Linked DNA regions of Homo sapiens. The protein of the gene in region 2 interacts with the protein of the main gene of each other region in a pairwise test. Each region holds a gene or a part of one and is shown on either strand. Other genes may lie near its edges.

Region 1 (7,026 bases), on a different chromosome or scaffold from region 2:
CTGAGGCCCCTCCACTGCCCCCCACTGCAGAATTTCATCAACCGGAACCTGGAGGCCAAAGAGGAGAGAATCAACAAACTGCACAGCGAGGGCGACCAGCTGCTGGCGGCCGAGCACCCCGGGAGGAACTCCATTGAGGTTCATGCACCCCGAGACCAGACACCTCCCCCAGGGTGGCTTCTGGTTGGCCGCTGCCTGTGGGCCGCCTGGAGCTCGGGCAGACCCCGGAGCTGGGGGTCCTGCAAGCTGCATCTTGTGTCTGTCTGTCTCTTTCTTGCTGTGTCTGACTCTGCCTCCTCCATTTATCCTGATCCGTTGACACTTCTGCCCTCAGCCCCTGGACTTCTGAAGCCCCTGTGGGGTCTGTATTAGTTTCCTAGAGTTGCTGCAACAAGTTAAAACAAACTTAGTGGCTTTAAACAACAGAAATTCATTCTCTCAGAGGTCTGTGGGCTGTAAGTCTGAAATCAAGGTGTCTTAGGGCCTCATTCCCTCTGGAAGCTCCAGGACATGTGCCTTCCTTGCTCTTCCGGCTTCTGGGGGTTGCCAACAGCCCTTGGCTTGTGGCTGCATCATTCCAGTCCCTTCCTCCGTCTTCACATGGCCTTCTCTCCCCATGTCTCTCTGTATCCTCTCTTCTTATAAGGATATCAGTCAGTGGATTTAGGGCTCACCCTAATTTCAGGATCCTTAACTAATGACATCTGCAAAGATCTTATTCCCAAATAAGGTCGCATTCTTCCCAACCCCCACAATGCCACCAACCCCGCCTGAGATGGAGTTTCGCTGTTGTTGCCCAGGCTGGAGTGCGATGGTGTAATCTTGGCTCACTGCAACCTCCACCTCCCGGGTTCAAGCAATTCTCCTGCCTCAGCCTCCCAAGTAGCTGGGACTACAGGCGCACACCATCATGCCCAGCTAATTTTTGTATTTTTAGTAGAGACAGGGTCTCATCATGTGGGCCAGGCTAGTCTCAAACTCCTGACCTCAGGTGATCCACCCGCCTCGGCCTCCCAAAGTGCTGCGATTACAGGTGTGAGCCACCATGCCTGGCCAGGGTCATGGATTTGGTGGGACACTGTTCGGTCCATGACAGTGCCTTTGTACAGATTTGCCGAAGGCACCACAGCCCCCACTTGCCCTTTGTGCACTGCACAGCCTGGGCATCCGTATGTGGCATCCCTGTTTGGCTCCTTGACGTGACCCCTCTCTCCTCCTCCCACTCCTGAGCAGAAGCTGGCTACCCCTGTGGTAGCCACACCCAGACAGATGCCAGATGCCTCCCTCCCCCGCCATGCCCCAGCCCAATATCCCAGCAGTCCCTCCCTTGGTGTCTGCAGTACCTGCCCAGTGGTGACCGGCCCCTTCTCTTCCTGGCAGGCGCACATGGAGGCTGTGCACGCAGACTGGAAGGAGTACCTGAACCTGCTCATCTGCGAGGAGAGCCACCTCAAGTACATGGAGGACTACCACCAGGTACTTACCTTTCCTGGGAGTCCCCCCAGCACCGGGGGTGCTACTCTCTGAGAGCGCTCAGTGCCTACCTGGCTCATGTGTGGCCTCGTGCTCCTTGGTCCAGGAGCCTTGCGGGGCAGCCATCCCAGGCCCCCAGCACCCATGCTTCTGATGGCGTGTGCAGACATGTCCCAAGCTTGCCGGCCCCTGTCCAACTTCCCTGGGGACCAGGGCCAGAGTCTGATTCCCCAGGTCACATGGGGCCCAGGGTGAGTGTGTAGGGTTTTAATTTTGGTAAAATCTATAATATACATGCAGATACATAAAACAAAATTTGCCTTTTTTTTTTTTTTTTTTTTTTTTGAGAGAGTCTTGCCCTGTCACCCAGGCTGGAGTGCAGTCGTGCCATCTCGGCTCACTACAACCTCCACCTCCTGGGTTCAAGTGATTCTCCTGCCTCAGCCTCCTGAACAGCTGGGATTACAAGTGCCCACCACCACACCCAGCTAATTTTTGTATTTTCAGTAAAGATGGGGTTTCGCCATGTTGGTCAGGCTGGTCTCGAACTCCTGACCTCAGGTGATCCTCCCGCCTCGGCCTCCTAAAGTGTTGGGATTACAGGTGTGAGCCACCACACCCGGCCAGTTTGCATTTTTAAGTGTACAATTCAGTGGCATTCATTGCATTCGCAATGTTATGCAACCATCACCACCATCTACTTGCAAAACTTTCCATCACCCCAAACAGAAACCCTATACCCTGGCTGGGCACGGTAGCTCATGTCTGTAATTCCAGCACTCTGGGAAGCCGAGGCGACTGGATCACCTGAGGTCAGGAGTTCAAGACCAGCCTGGCCAACATGATGAAACCCCATCTCTACTAAAATACAAAAGTTAGCCAGGTGTGGTGGCCCATATCTGTAGTCCCAGATGGGAGGCTGAGGCAGGAGAACTGCTTGAACCCAGGAGGCAGAGGTTGCAGTGAGCTGAGATCGCGCCATTGCACTCCAGCCTGGGCGACAGAGTGAGTCTCCGCCTCAAAAAAAAAAAAAAAAAACAACCCCGTACTCATTAGGCAGTAAGTTTTCCATTCCCACTCCCCCAGCCCCAGGTCACCTTTGGTCTTCTTGCTGTCTCTATGGACTTGCCTGTTCCAGAAGTGTCACACCTAGAACGAATATGAAGAATCAGTGGGATCATGCAATCTCTGCCCTTTTGTGTCTGGCTTCTCTCACTGAGCATCATGTTTTCCGGGTTCATCCGTGTTGTAGCATTTTCAGTGCTTCACCCCTTTTTATGGCTGAATCATATCCTATTGTATGGCTAGACCACTGTGTTTATCCACTCATCTGTGGCTGGACACTTGTCTGTTTCCAGAGGAATGAGAGTTCTTAAGAAGCTGCGGGTAATTCTTAGGATTGAGGTGTCTGGGGAAAGCTGGATGTGGGCGACGCCGTGTCACTCCTCATTCCCTGTCTGAGCCGCACAGTGGGGGCTTCAGGTCCTGTTTATGGCTGCAGCCCAGGTGCTCAGCCCAGGGGATAGCTGACAGTGAACCAAGAGTTGATAGACTGAAGAATGGGCAAGAGAATTTTCGAGAACAAAAAGGGGAGGCTATTATCAAAACCTAGAAAGAAGCTATAGTATTAAGTCTGGATGTTCCTAGTACAGAGAGAGGAACTGAATCAAAGACACCTCAAGACTTACTGATACATCCAAGAAAACATGTCACAGAGGTGGCATCTCATGGATGGGTGGGAAGGGACCTGGCTTTTCCCAGTGAGGCCCCTAAGGAGCCAGCTCAGGGAGGGTGGGGCTGTCTCCACGCAGAGGAGCCTCAGGCTCAGCACAGGGTCCCATGCTGGACTCCAGGTGAACCGGAGGCCCAGCCCCGCCTGAGGGATGAGCTTGAAGCCTCCGACAGAAGCCCAGGTGCTTCTAGTGGTTTCCTGGCTGTAACAGAGCCACCTTCTCCCCTAGTTTCACGAAGACGTGAAGGACGCTCAGGAGCTGCTGCGCAAGGTGGACTCGGACCTGAACCAGAAGTATGGCCCTGACTTCAAGGACCGGTACCAGATTGAGCTGCTGCTGCGGGAGCTGGATGTGAGCGATGGCCCAGGACCCCTGCTGGCCCGGGGGGCGGGGGACCCCTCTACACCATGCCTGCCCTCAGCCCTGTACAGGCCCCTCCACAGCACCCCACCTGCTGAATCCAGCCCCTGCTCTGCGTCCTCCCACCAGGGGGAAGGCTGTTGGTCTCACCTGGGCCCCTGACCCCGTTCTCTCCAGGACCAGGAGAAGGTGCTGGACAAGTATGAGGACGTGGTGCAGGGGCTGCAGAAGCGAGGCCAGCAGGTGGTGCCCCTCAAGTACCGCCGGGAGACTCCGCTCAAGCCCATCCCCGTGGAGGCACTCTGTGACTTTGAGGGGGAGCAGGTGCGTGGGGCCAGCTCCTCTGTTCACATCACTACAAAGTTTTTGGGGTAACATGGTTGGATCCCGGGCCTCAGGCGCCGTTCTCAGGAGCCTGTGCCTGTCTCCGTGGTTGGTGTCACTCTGCCAACCCTTCCCCTGGTGCAGGCCAACTGGCACCCCTATGCCGCCCCCACCTCGGCTGCCCTGGCCTTGTGTTCCACCAGCTTAGCAACCCCAGTCCCTCCTCAGAAGTCCCAGGCCAGGTTCTCATTGGCTCACTGTGAGTCACGTGTCCATCCTACACCAATCACTGTGGCCAGGGAATGCCAGGGTCCACCCTATACCAATGACTGTGGCTGGCGAATGCCAGTCATTGGCCAGGTCCAAGTCACATGTCCATCTGGAGCTTGGGAATGGAGAAGGAGAGACCACAGGGACTGGGAATTGGGAGGGAAGGTTCCCCAAAGGGAAATGGAGGTGGGTTGCTGGGCCGGCAGCCTCAACACATGTGCTTCTCCTGCATGCCCCTCCCCACTCTACGGGGAGGGTCCAAGTGATGAGCCGGGGCTCCCCAGGTCCAAGAGTCGGGGGCTGAGATGGCAACCGGGCTCCCAGGCCCTCAGGCCCTGCCGGGATCCTGACTGTCCAGCCTGCCCCCGCCAGGGCCTGATCTCGCGGGGCTACAGCTACACCCTGCAGAAGAACAACGGGGAGAGCTGGGAGCTCATGGACAGCGCTGGGAACAAGCTGATTGCTCCGGCCGTGTGTTTTGTGATCCCCCCCACAGACCCTGAGGCCCTGGCTCTGGCTGACAGGTACAAGGGCAAAGGCGGGAGTCTGCATGGACCAGTCCCACCCCCAGGGCTTCTCAGGCCCCATTCATAGCCCCGGGGATTTGGACTCAGCCTGTGGGGAGCGCGGGGTCGCTGACACTCTCCATCTGCACCCCCTTGGAAGTTCATGCAGGAGAGGGGCAGATTGTGGGCCAGCTGACTTGCTAAACATGAATGTCTAGCTCTGGGCTTCGTCCTGGCCCCCTCACGAGTTTCTAAGCAGTTTCTAAGGGCCCCTGACTCCCGCACGCACTGCTCCCTGTACTTGCAGACCCCAGCCCCTTGGCTGGAGGACTCAGCTGGGATAAGGGCTGCCTCCTCTTTGCTCCCAGGCACCTTCTTCCACTGCACGCACCGCTTTTTATTAAGTGACTAGCGTATGCGTCAGTCTCATTGGGCCTGGGCTCCTTGAATTTCCTCTCTCCAGGGCCTAGTTAAGTACCTGGTACAAAGTAGGTGCCCAGGAACTCCTTGCTGAATGAGTGGATCATTCAAGGAATGCCTTCATTTATTAAGTATTTATTGAGCACCTACTGTGTATGCTCCCTCAGAAGTAACATCTTGGTGGTGATTATTGGACAGACAATTTTAGGTAGTGAGACTTCCTACGAAAGAGGAGGGAAGGAGGGAGAAGAGCTCTGAGCCCAGGAGCACAGAAAGGCCAGTGCCACAGTGAGCACTTGCTGTCCGCATCTAAGGAGCTGTCAGGCTCCTCTGGGGTGTCTGCCCAGCCAGAGTCCGCAGTCCCGCCTCTGTGGGTGCAGGGGGTGGTGGGCTGCCCAGGTTCCCAGCTCATTTCTGTCCTCACAGCCTGGGCAGCCAGTACCGGAGCGTGCGGCAGAAGGCAGCTGGGAGCAAACGCACGCTGCAGCAGCGGTATGAGGTGCTGAAGACCGAGAATCCCGGAGGTGGGTGCCAGGGCCACTCGCCTGAGGCTCTGGGGGTACCGGGGAGGAGGGGCTGGACCAGGGTCTGTGCTGTGGATGAGACGGCGGGGGGCTGGCTGCCTAGGTCCATCCCTGGGCCTCACACCCCTGGCCCGTTGTCACACCTGCCTGTGTCCTCCCTCCCTCCACAGATGCCTCTGACCTACAGGGGCGGCAGCTGCTGGCTGGCTTGGACAAGGTGGCCAGCGACCTGGACCGGCAGGAGAAGGCCATCACAGGGATCCTGCGGCCACCACTGGAGCAAGGCCGGGCTGTGCAGGACAGTGCCGAGCGGGCCAAGGACCTCAAGGTACCTGCGGGTCAGGAGCACAGGTGGGGCCGGGGGAGCCCTGCACTGGCCCCCTGGGGCCCCTATTTGAGGTCTTTTCCCCATGGAGTCTTGGGATATTCACTGCAGCTGTCTGTCAGGGACAGCCTGCTGCATGTAAAAGGGTCCCAAGTCATGGAGGTGGCAGGGCTGCTGTCATTACCTCCCCAGGAGAAAGAGCTGGCAGGACTTGCATTGTTCCTGCACGGCTTGTCGATCTGACGCCTGGCATGGCACATGGGCTGTGGAATTCCGCAGGACTGGGTCACCGGCTGGCTTGACTGCAAACACGTTAGCGTTTGTATTTATAAACTCCAGGCCTCAGTGTCTTCAGTAGGATGGGTTGGCCCTGCTCACAGGGCAGTGGCGAGGACAGGGTGAGCTGATGCCAGGGGGGACGTGGAGGGGCCACCTCCCCCCACCTCCTTTCCTATACAAAGTCTCCCACATCCTCAAGGCAGCCCTCTGAGGCAGTGAGTAGCACTCCAATTTTACAGAAGAGGATCTGGGATTGGAGAAGTGCCATAGCCCCTGATGGGGCCTCAGAGTGAGAGCCAAGTCAGGGCGAGAGGATGCCGGTCTCGGGTGTAGCCTGACCCCACAAGTCCCTTCCTAAGCTGCTGGGAGTCGTCACACCCCCACCCGTGACTGGGTGGAGTCGTAGTACTCACCTCCCGGGGTTGCCGCAAAGATTAAACAGAAGCGTCCGCGTGCAGTGCTGAGGACAGCACAGGCCCGGCAGCTGCCTGGGTGCTTCTGGTGTCACTAGTCCATTCCACCTCAGCGGTTCCCTGGGATGCTCGTGAAAAATACAGCCCTCAGGCTGGGGTCCAGATGCCGGGTCAGAGCCCCAGAATGTGCCAGGCCTCTCCAGCTGCTTCCACTGTGCCTGATGTGGGAATCTGTGCTCACCCTGGGCACATCCTCAGGGGAAGGGGCTGCCTGGCTGTGTCCAAAACTGAGGGGCCCTGGTTCCCACAGAACATCACCAACGAGCTACTGCGGATTGAACCTGAGAAGACGCGGAGCACGGCTGAGGGCGAAGCCTTCATCCAGGCCCTCCCAGGCAG
Region 2 (7,026 bases):
GGAGCCCTCTCTTTGAGCTACTTCTTATTCTGGGTTCCAGTAACTGCCTCCCCTCCCTAGCCGTCCCAGTGTAGGAGTGGAGACAGCTCCCCACTGTTGGGAACCATGGGGGCACTGCACTTTTCCTTGTTGCTTTCCCTTAACCCTCCTTTCTGCAAACCTTCAACCACGCAGTTTGAACTCATCATCTCCTTCTTAAGGTTTTTGACCAATGGATATTTATTATTCCTTCAGTCTTCACCTCAACCCCCACAAACACAGATTGAAATCATCACCTAAATATGTGGAGGCCAAAGCTCAGAAGCATTAAGTTTTTTTGAGAAGGCACTGACAGTAGGTGGCATGAGAAGTCTGGGAAGGACTAAGTTCTTTGGGCAGGCATCGCCTCCTTTCCTTGGCATTTCCATCCTCACTCTCCCTGCAGTATTACTCAGTGTGTGTCTCCTTCCCCTCAGATCCACCCTTTATATGTCTTCCTTCCCAGGAAGGTCTGAGGAAGTGCAAGAGATCTATTCGCCCTGGTTCCCTGGGCTCTCAGCAGAAAGGGTCTTGGAGATGGGCCCACTTTTCAGATTGGAATTTAATGTTGCCTACCCCAAATTCTCCTAGTCATGGGAGCTTTTCTTCCCCAAATCACAACAGTTGGAGAAGTAAAAAGGAAAAAGGAATATAGTCCCTCAGGTTGTTGGTCCAGGGAACACACAGTGATTTACTCACCAGGCTTGAAGAGGGCCTTTTTCCATTCTGAAAGGAAGGAGACACAGATAAGGAAAAGGTCAGTATTCTTGTACTTTTCCCCACTGCACTCTCCCCTCACTACATGTTTTCTCTCCTTTTCTTCAGAGTCTCTTCCAGGGTCCAGCCTCCCTCTTCTACAGCTCTGATGGATCAGGGGTGGTACCTTCTCAAAAATGGTGAGCTCTGTTCCCTCTGCAATGAAGGGTACAGGCTGCAAGGCCAGGCTTTGCAAGGGGGTGTGCAGGGTCAGGAGTCTCTCTGATTCTCCAGAAAAGCAGAAATCAACCCCCCACAACACACAAATTGAGTCTTTGGGTTAAATCTGATTCATGCAAATGAGAACATCAATGGGTCACAGCAGAGAAAAGGTTGAAATGTTCATGGCACGTGTCCCAGCAAACTCAGAGAGCATCAGGTTCACTCACCATTATAGGCTGAATGTCTCTCTCCCCCTACAATGAAAAAAAGATAGAGATGTCACCTGAACTTGCCATTTTTGATTTGGCCCCATTCCCTTAACTTTACATCCATCTAATCTTTTTTTTTTTTTTTTTTTTTTTACCACCTGTATCTTCCTCCTCTGCAGGTTCAATTCTTTCTATTGTGTTGTTCTTAGTATCAAATCCAGGAACATCAGTCGAATGCTAGTGACATGGCAGACATTGCGAGAGTTCCTTCCTGATGGTGTTCAGCTGATCTATTTGGAATGTATCTATATACCTGTACCTGGGCATAGGTGTCTCCATGTCTATATGCACATATATATATACACATATATATATACATATATATGCACATATATATGTGTATATATGTATATATGTGTATATATATATTTAAATGTGTGTATGTGTGTGTGTGTGTTTGCAAGATCCTTCTATATCAATCTAATTTCGTACCTTACTCTGAAAAGAATTTGGGAAATTTAATGAGCAATTTCAGGGACTAGTGTTTGAAGTCAGTTAGAATAAATTGGTACCAACTGAGCGACTGTTCAGGCCACTTTTGTTTATTAGACACACTTTTCTCCCTCTCTCTTTTCAGATTTTCTTGTTCTTTATTATCTTTTATTCTTTTTCTTCTCTGGAGCCTATAGATTATGTAAAATGACTAGTGAAGTTCCTGCCATAGAGAATGCACTTCATCTACCTCTTCCCCCTTCCTTTACAAATGTGCCCCTGGATATTCCTCAGTGCTTTGCAGGGCTATAGAGTCTGTGGCCCCTGGTAGAGATAAATTGAAGGCATCTTTTCTTCGAGACCAGCTGAGAAAGAGAAAGAGAGGGAGAAAGAAACACTCCTCCTGGGTGTTACTCCAATCAGCCACACTCTTTCTTTTTTCCTTTCTTCTCTTTCCTTTTTTTTTTTTTCTTTTTGGCAATGACTAGGAATTGGCACATCTATTTTCTTTCCTTAGTCAAAGGGATCTAAGACCACTTCCCAACCTTGGGGAAAGAGTTAAGAGTGGAAACTATTCAAGCACAGACAGTTATAGATTCAAATTCAGAGAAAATGTCAGAGGCACTTACGAGATGCATACTGGATACTTCTCCATCCTGCAACGGAAGGAACAGGGGAAGATGCATCAAGGCGCATAAAGCAGGGACAGGAAGACATGCCTGGGTCTCTGGGGGAATGGGAACTTACTGAGTTCCTCCAGGAGCTTCACTGGAAAATAAGCAGAAATAATAATGAACTGTTACAGGTGAGGGGGTTTTCTAAAAAATTAACCTTAAAAGCAACTGAGCTCTGCGGTGGGGATGGGCGTGAGGTCTTTGGGCTTTGGCCCGTAAGCCAGGGGCTCAGATAAACTCCCAAGGTCAGCTACCTCTTGTGCTTTGTTCTTGCTTCATTGTGCTCCATGCCATTTCTCTCAACTCTTGCTCTCTCTTTTTCTTTCTGAACTGAGTCTTTTTTTCCTCCTGCTGTTGCCACAGGAAGTAACCGGCTCCCCCAAGAAGCAGCAGCAAGACAGGCAGGGTCCCTGCCAGGGCGGCGATCCACCTCTGGGCGCTCCTGAAGAAGGGGTCTGTGAAGGCAACGGCTGTGGGTCATGGGGGCCGGTGCACTCAGCCTCCCCAGACTGCAGCGCCCCAAGTGTTAGCTGCTCACCCCAGGTCACAGGGCACGGAATCTATCTCATGAGGTTAAATAATCTTTCTCATGCTAAAATCTCAGAGGACAGTGGGTAAGACTTTGATAAACCCCCACTAGAGGCTGCTACTATTACTTCTCTTGAGACGTCTGCCTCTCATGTGGAAAGTGAGTGACTTGAGGATATCAAACATATTTTTTTCTAATTCAACTTTTTAATAGGTAACACATGTACATGGTTCTAAAATACATGTATAAAAAGTCACGTAAGTCTCCCATCCACCCAGTCCTCCCTCCCACCCTCCCTTTCTTAACTTCAAATTAGTCTGCTTAATATGATGCTTAAGAACAGGAACTTTGGAGCTGGAGGCCCTGGGTGTCAATGCTGGCTCCTTTAGGTGACTTGCAGTGTGACTTTAGACTAATTACTTAACCTCTCTGTTCCTACTGCCCTTCTCCTGAAGTTAGAAGGATTAAATTAATACTTATAAAGTGCCTGACACCTAGTGAGTGTTATGACATTACTTGTTAACTTAAAAAAATGTAAATAAAAATATATTCTTGTTTTTCCTCTTATTTGCACTAAAGATAGCATTCCATACACACCACTCTGCATTTTGCTCTTTCTGTGCAAAGTTAATCTTGGAGGTTTTTCCACTTCACTATAGAGAGAATTATCTCTTTTTTCTTTCACAGTTGAGTGGTATCCATTGCATGAAAGTTCTCCAGCAGTGAACATCTGCATAGTTTCCAACCTTGTGCAGTCATAATCAGTGCTATAAAAAATAACTTTTTACATGGATCATCTCATACAAATGCAAGCTTATCTACCAAATAAATTCCCAGAAGCGGAATTTTGGATCACTAAAGATGTAGTTTGGATAGATATTGTTATATAGCCCCCAACAGAGGTTGTGCTAATGCACACCAAAAATACAAGTCATCCCAGCAGATGCCTAGGAGTCACAGCCTTCCTACATTCCTGCCATAACCATGTGTTATCAACCAACAGATGTTTGTTTTGATTTTTGCCAATACCATAAGTGAAAAATGATTCAGTATGTTTCTCTAATGAATGAGAACGAACACTCTTTTGTGAGTTATTTCCTTTTCTGTAAATTAAATAATTTATGACCTTTGTTAAAATTTTTTACTCAGTTTTTAAAATCTTCTGTCTCAAGGAGATTGGCTCTTTCTCTATGAGTTTGTATATATATATATATGCTTTCCCCTTTTGTCATTTGACTTTACATACGCAGCTTATCTTAACAATTATCCCCTAATTCCAATTACTGTTATACTTCTGGCAGACAGGAAATGTTCAGTAAATGTTTGCGTCATGAACAGCTTTATGGAGAAGAGAAGCTCCCCCGGTGCAAGGAGGAGCCTCCAGGTCTGTGCTTTGGGCCTTATATTCAGTGCAGAGACCCAGGTTGACTGCAGACACTAACACCTCCCCCTTCATTCAACTGCCACAGCCCAGCTCAGAAAACCTGAGGCCAAGCAGGTACTGACCTGCGATGGAAATGCTGGCTGTCTTTTCCAGGCCGAGGAGGGAACTTCTGATGGTACAGGATACACCCTCCCCAGAGCTGCCTCTCATGATCACAGATGCTGCTACTGCATACAGGCCCACTCCGTCTGCAACCACAGGTGCTTCCACAGTCGGGATGTTCTCTCCCTTGTTGTTGCTCCACTGTATTTGGGGTTGGGGGTACCAGCCAGTGGACCTGCACTCCAGATGGATCCCTCCATCCTTGTAACCCTTCACATCAACGTGAAGATCAGAACCCAGTGCTGTGGAAGGATGAATTAGCCTAAATTCTTGAGAGGCCTGTATCAGAGAGGGTCTCAAAAGGAATCATGGCACACTCACATTCCATAATTCAAGAACAATTTCATTTTAGAGCTGCTTACAAAAGTGTGGTCCTAGTGAGGAGAAAGCTACATGAATGAGTGCAGTATCCCAGGGTCAGTAACAGTGGGGCTATTCCCACCCACCACAGTTACCAGAGGGAGGAGGAGAGGGAGCTGTTTTGAAGACACAAAAGAAGAGATTTATGCATTAAGGACTTTCTTGAGAGGGGCAATGACCTTCAGCAAGGCAATGCAGCCAGCCTGAGGGTAACTTGCAGGAAGGAAGCCAGGGACTAAGCACCCAGATCTCTCTTTTCTCTCCCTCCCTTCATCGTCTGCTACAGATCCCTGCTGACCAAACCCTTAAACAGAAGCCACAGGGAAAAGCATTGCACTAAGAAAGAAAAGAGCAGTCCCTTTATCTGGAAGCAGCAACAGGACTCAGTGTCCTCCTGTTGAACAAAAGCAATTTCACAGAACACCAGCATCAGATGATGGCACTTTGTGACTATGATGGATCATGGGAAAAACAAGACCACCCCACATCATGTGTGAGCACAGAGAAAAACATGAACATTGTCCAAACCACAGCAGTGACCAAACAACCCCCATCAGCAATGAGGGATTGCTGTCCCTTCATCAATTACAGCTTTAGTCTCACCCTGGTCTCTTTCTTCCTAGATAAGATTGATTAAGGTTCTCACTCATAGAATTAACCTGCCCACACCTTCCTAGCAGTGTCTCATCCAGAGCAGAGGCCAAAGTCTATAAACCCTCCTCCCAAATCCCCTAACACAAGCCCAAATTATATACTAAGTCTGCTCTAACAGCTTCTTACTGAGACTCCACCACAGCTCCCCATGATATGTGTTCTTCCTCACTGCAACAAGTAAGAAACACAGCTCCCATGACTACAGGTGTATTCTAGGGTCATTGGCTCAAGAACATTGGCAGCAGATACAGTCCAGATAGCCCAGTCTTCTAGGGCCCACAATAGCATGTACCTAGTGGAGCCACAGAAGCCATCCAGTACAGAACTAAACACGAATGACTGTGTACTAGTCACTGAAGAGATGATTTCTTATGCTTTCTATCCCTTGTCCTTCACTTCCCTTATATCTCTGGTGGCCAGAGGAAAGGAGTTCTTTACTTGAGCATGTAGGGTACAGCAGGAATTCTTCCTAAAGGAAAACCTGTGTCTTACTCAAGGGCCTCAGAGAAGCTAAGTTGGGAGGCAGTGCAGGCAATTGCTAGTGAGCAGCCAGGAGTGTCTGCAGTGCTTTTGCAAGAGGGACTCTGCATCTGCTCTAGATCCTACAGAGAAATGTTCTCAGAACAAAACCTGGAGGCTCACCTGCAACCTTCAGCTCCACCAGGGCTTTTTCATAGAAGTCACCATCTTGGAAATAACACAAGTACTTTCCACTGTCAGAGGCTGTGACGTTGTGTATTCGGAGAGCAGCCTTCCCTGCAGTGATGCCATCCCGCAGAATCGAAGTTCTCCCTCGATACGGTGCACTCTGCCTGTCTTCCACTTCCTTTCCATCTGCATACACGTTCACCACCTGCCTTAGGCTGGAACTCACCCACTTCAGCTCCATGGTCTCTGCACTCATGGTCGGGAACAGGTGACAGGGCAGATCAGCGTCTTCACCCACCATGGCCAGGATGGGCCCAGAGGGTCCAAGCACAGAAAACTGAGCTGTAGGCACAAGGGGGAGGATCTGTCAGAGGGTTTTGGAGTTGGGGTCATGAGAGGAAGGGTGCTTCTCAGACAGGGAAGGCGAGATACAAAGAAACTGGTGGGGGAAACTGATCTTAACAGAAGCACCATTTGTCTCTTAGTGACGGGTGAACCTTCAGATCGGGATGGACTTCAGGTTTGGGAAGGAGTCAAAAGTCCTATGAGGACATAATTAGGTAATTGTCTGCTTCAGAAACAAGCGTGGAATTGTTCCCTACCTGAGTGAGGCATGAGCAGCTGAAGCAAAAGGAGGCAGACACGAAAGTTGAGCAGAAGGAAGGCCAGGAAACTTGCCATTTTCATTCATGCTGCATATCAGGAGATACTGGAAGGTGGGGGGCAGACACTATGACCTGGAAGAAGCTATAGAATTCCAAATGGAAACCTCCACTTCCCTAGAGCTAACTCAAGTATGGTGACCGAAGAAGATCTTTCCTCTGCCAAAAATTCTGTCCTTCAGTGTCTTCACCTTTGAGTCCCAACATTGAAAATCACCTGTAAAAACATGTCTATGTGAAATGCACATCTGTTATTCGATCAGAAAATCCTCACTGTACTGTTTAACAATATTCAGAATCCTATGACTTCCCCAAA

Evidence for each region. Proteins that work in one complex are often made in the same cells at the same time.
Region 1: the proteins of BTN3A1 (region 2) and PPL interact in binary tests that used the Homo sapiens proteins (3 or more experiments, as listed by UniProt).

Annotation. Positions count from the first base shown.
Region 1 is NC_000016.10:4,892,125-4,899,150, reverse strand, and holds part of PPL (periplakin), read left to right. Parts: intron 1-30; coding exon 31-138; intron 139-1,380; coding exon 1,381-1,476; intron 1,477-2,570; exon of another isoform or gene 2,571-3,434; coding exon 3,435-3,557; intron 3,558-3,716; exon of another isoform or gene 3,717-3,743; coding exon 3,744-3,890; intron 3,891-4,484; coding exon of another isoform or gene 4,485-4,532; coding exon 4,533-4,684; intron 4,685-5,512; coding exon 5,513-5,610; intron 5,611-5,780; coding exon 5,781-5,938; intron 5,939-6,937; coding exon 6,938-7,026. UniProt on the Homo sapiens protein: Component of the cornified envelope of keratinocytes. May link the cornified envelope to desmosomes and intermediate filaments. May act as a localization signal in PKB/AKT-mediated signaling.
Region 2 is NC_000006.12:26,405,273-26,412,298, reverse strand, and holds part of BTN3A1 (butyrophilin subfamily 3 member A1 isoform a precursor), read right to left. Parts: exon of another isoform or gene 6,928-7,026; 5' UTR 6,736-6,927; coding exon 6,651-6,735; intron 6,391-6,650; coding exon 6,043-6,390; intron 6,037-6,042; exon of another isoform or gene 4,629-6,036; coding exon 4,347-4,628; exon of another isoform or gene 3,577-4,346; coding exon of another isoform or gene 3,438-3,576; intron 2,767-3,437; coding exon 2,566-2,766; intron 2,406-2,565; coding exon 2,385-2,405; intron 2,294-2,384; coding exon 2,267-2,293; intron 1,191-2,266; coding exon 1,164-1,190; intron 745-1,163; coding exon 718-744; intron 1-717. UniProt on the Homo sapiens protein: Plays a role in T-cell activation and in the adaptive immune response. Regulates the proliferation of activated T-cells. Regulates the release of cytokines and IFNG by activated T-cells.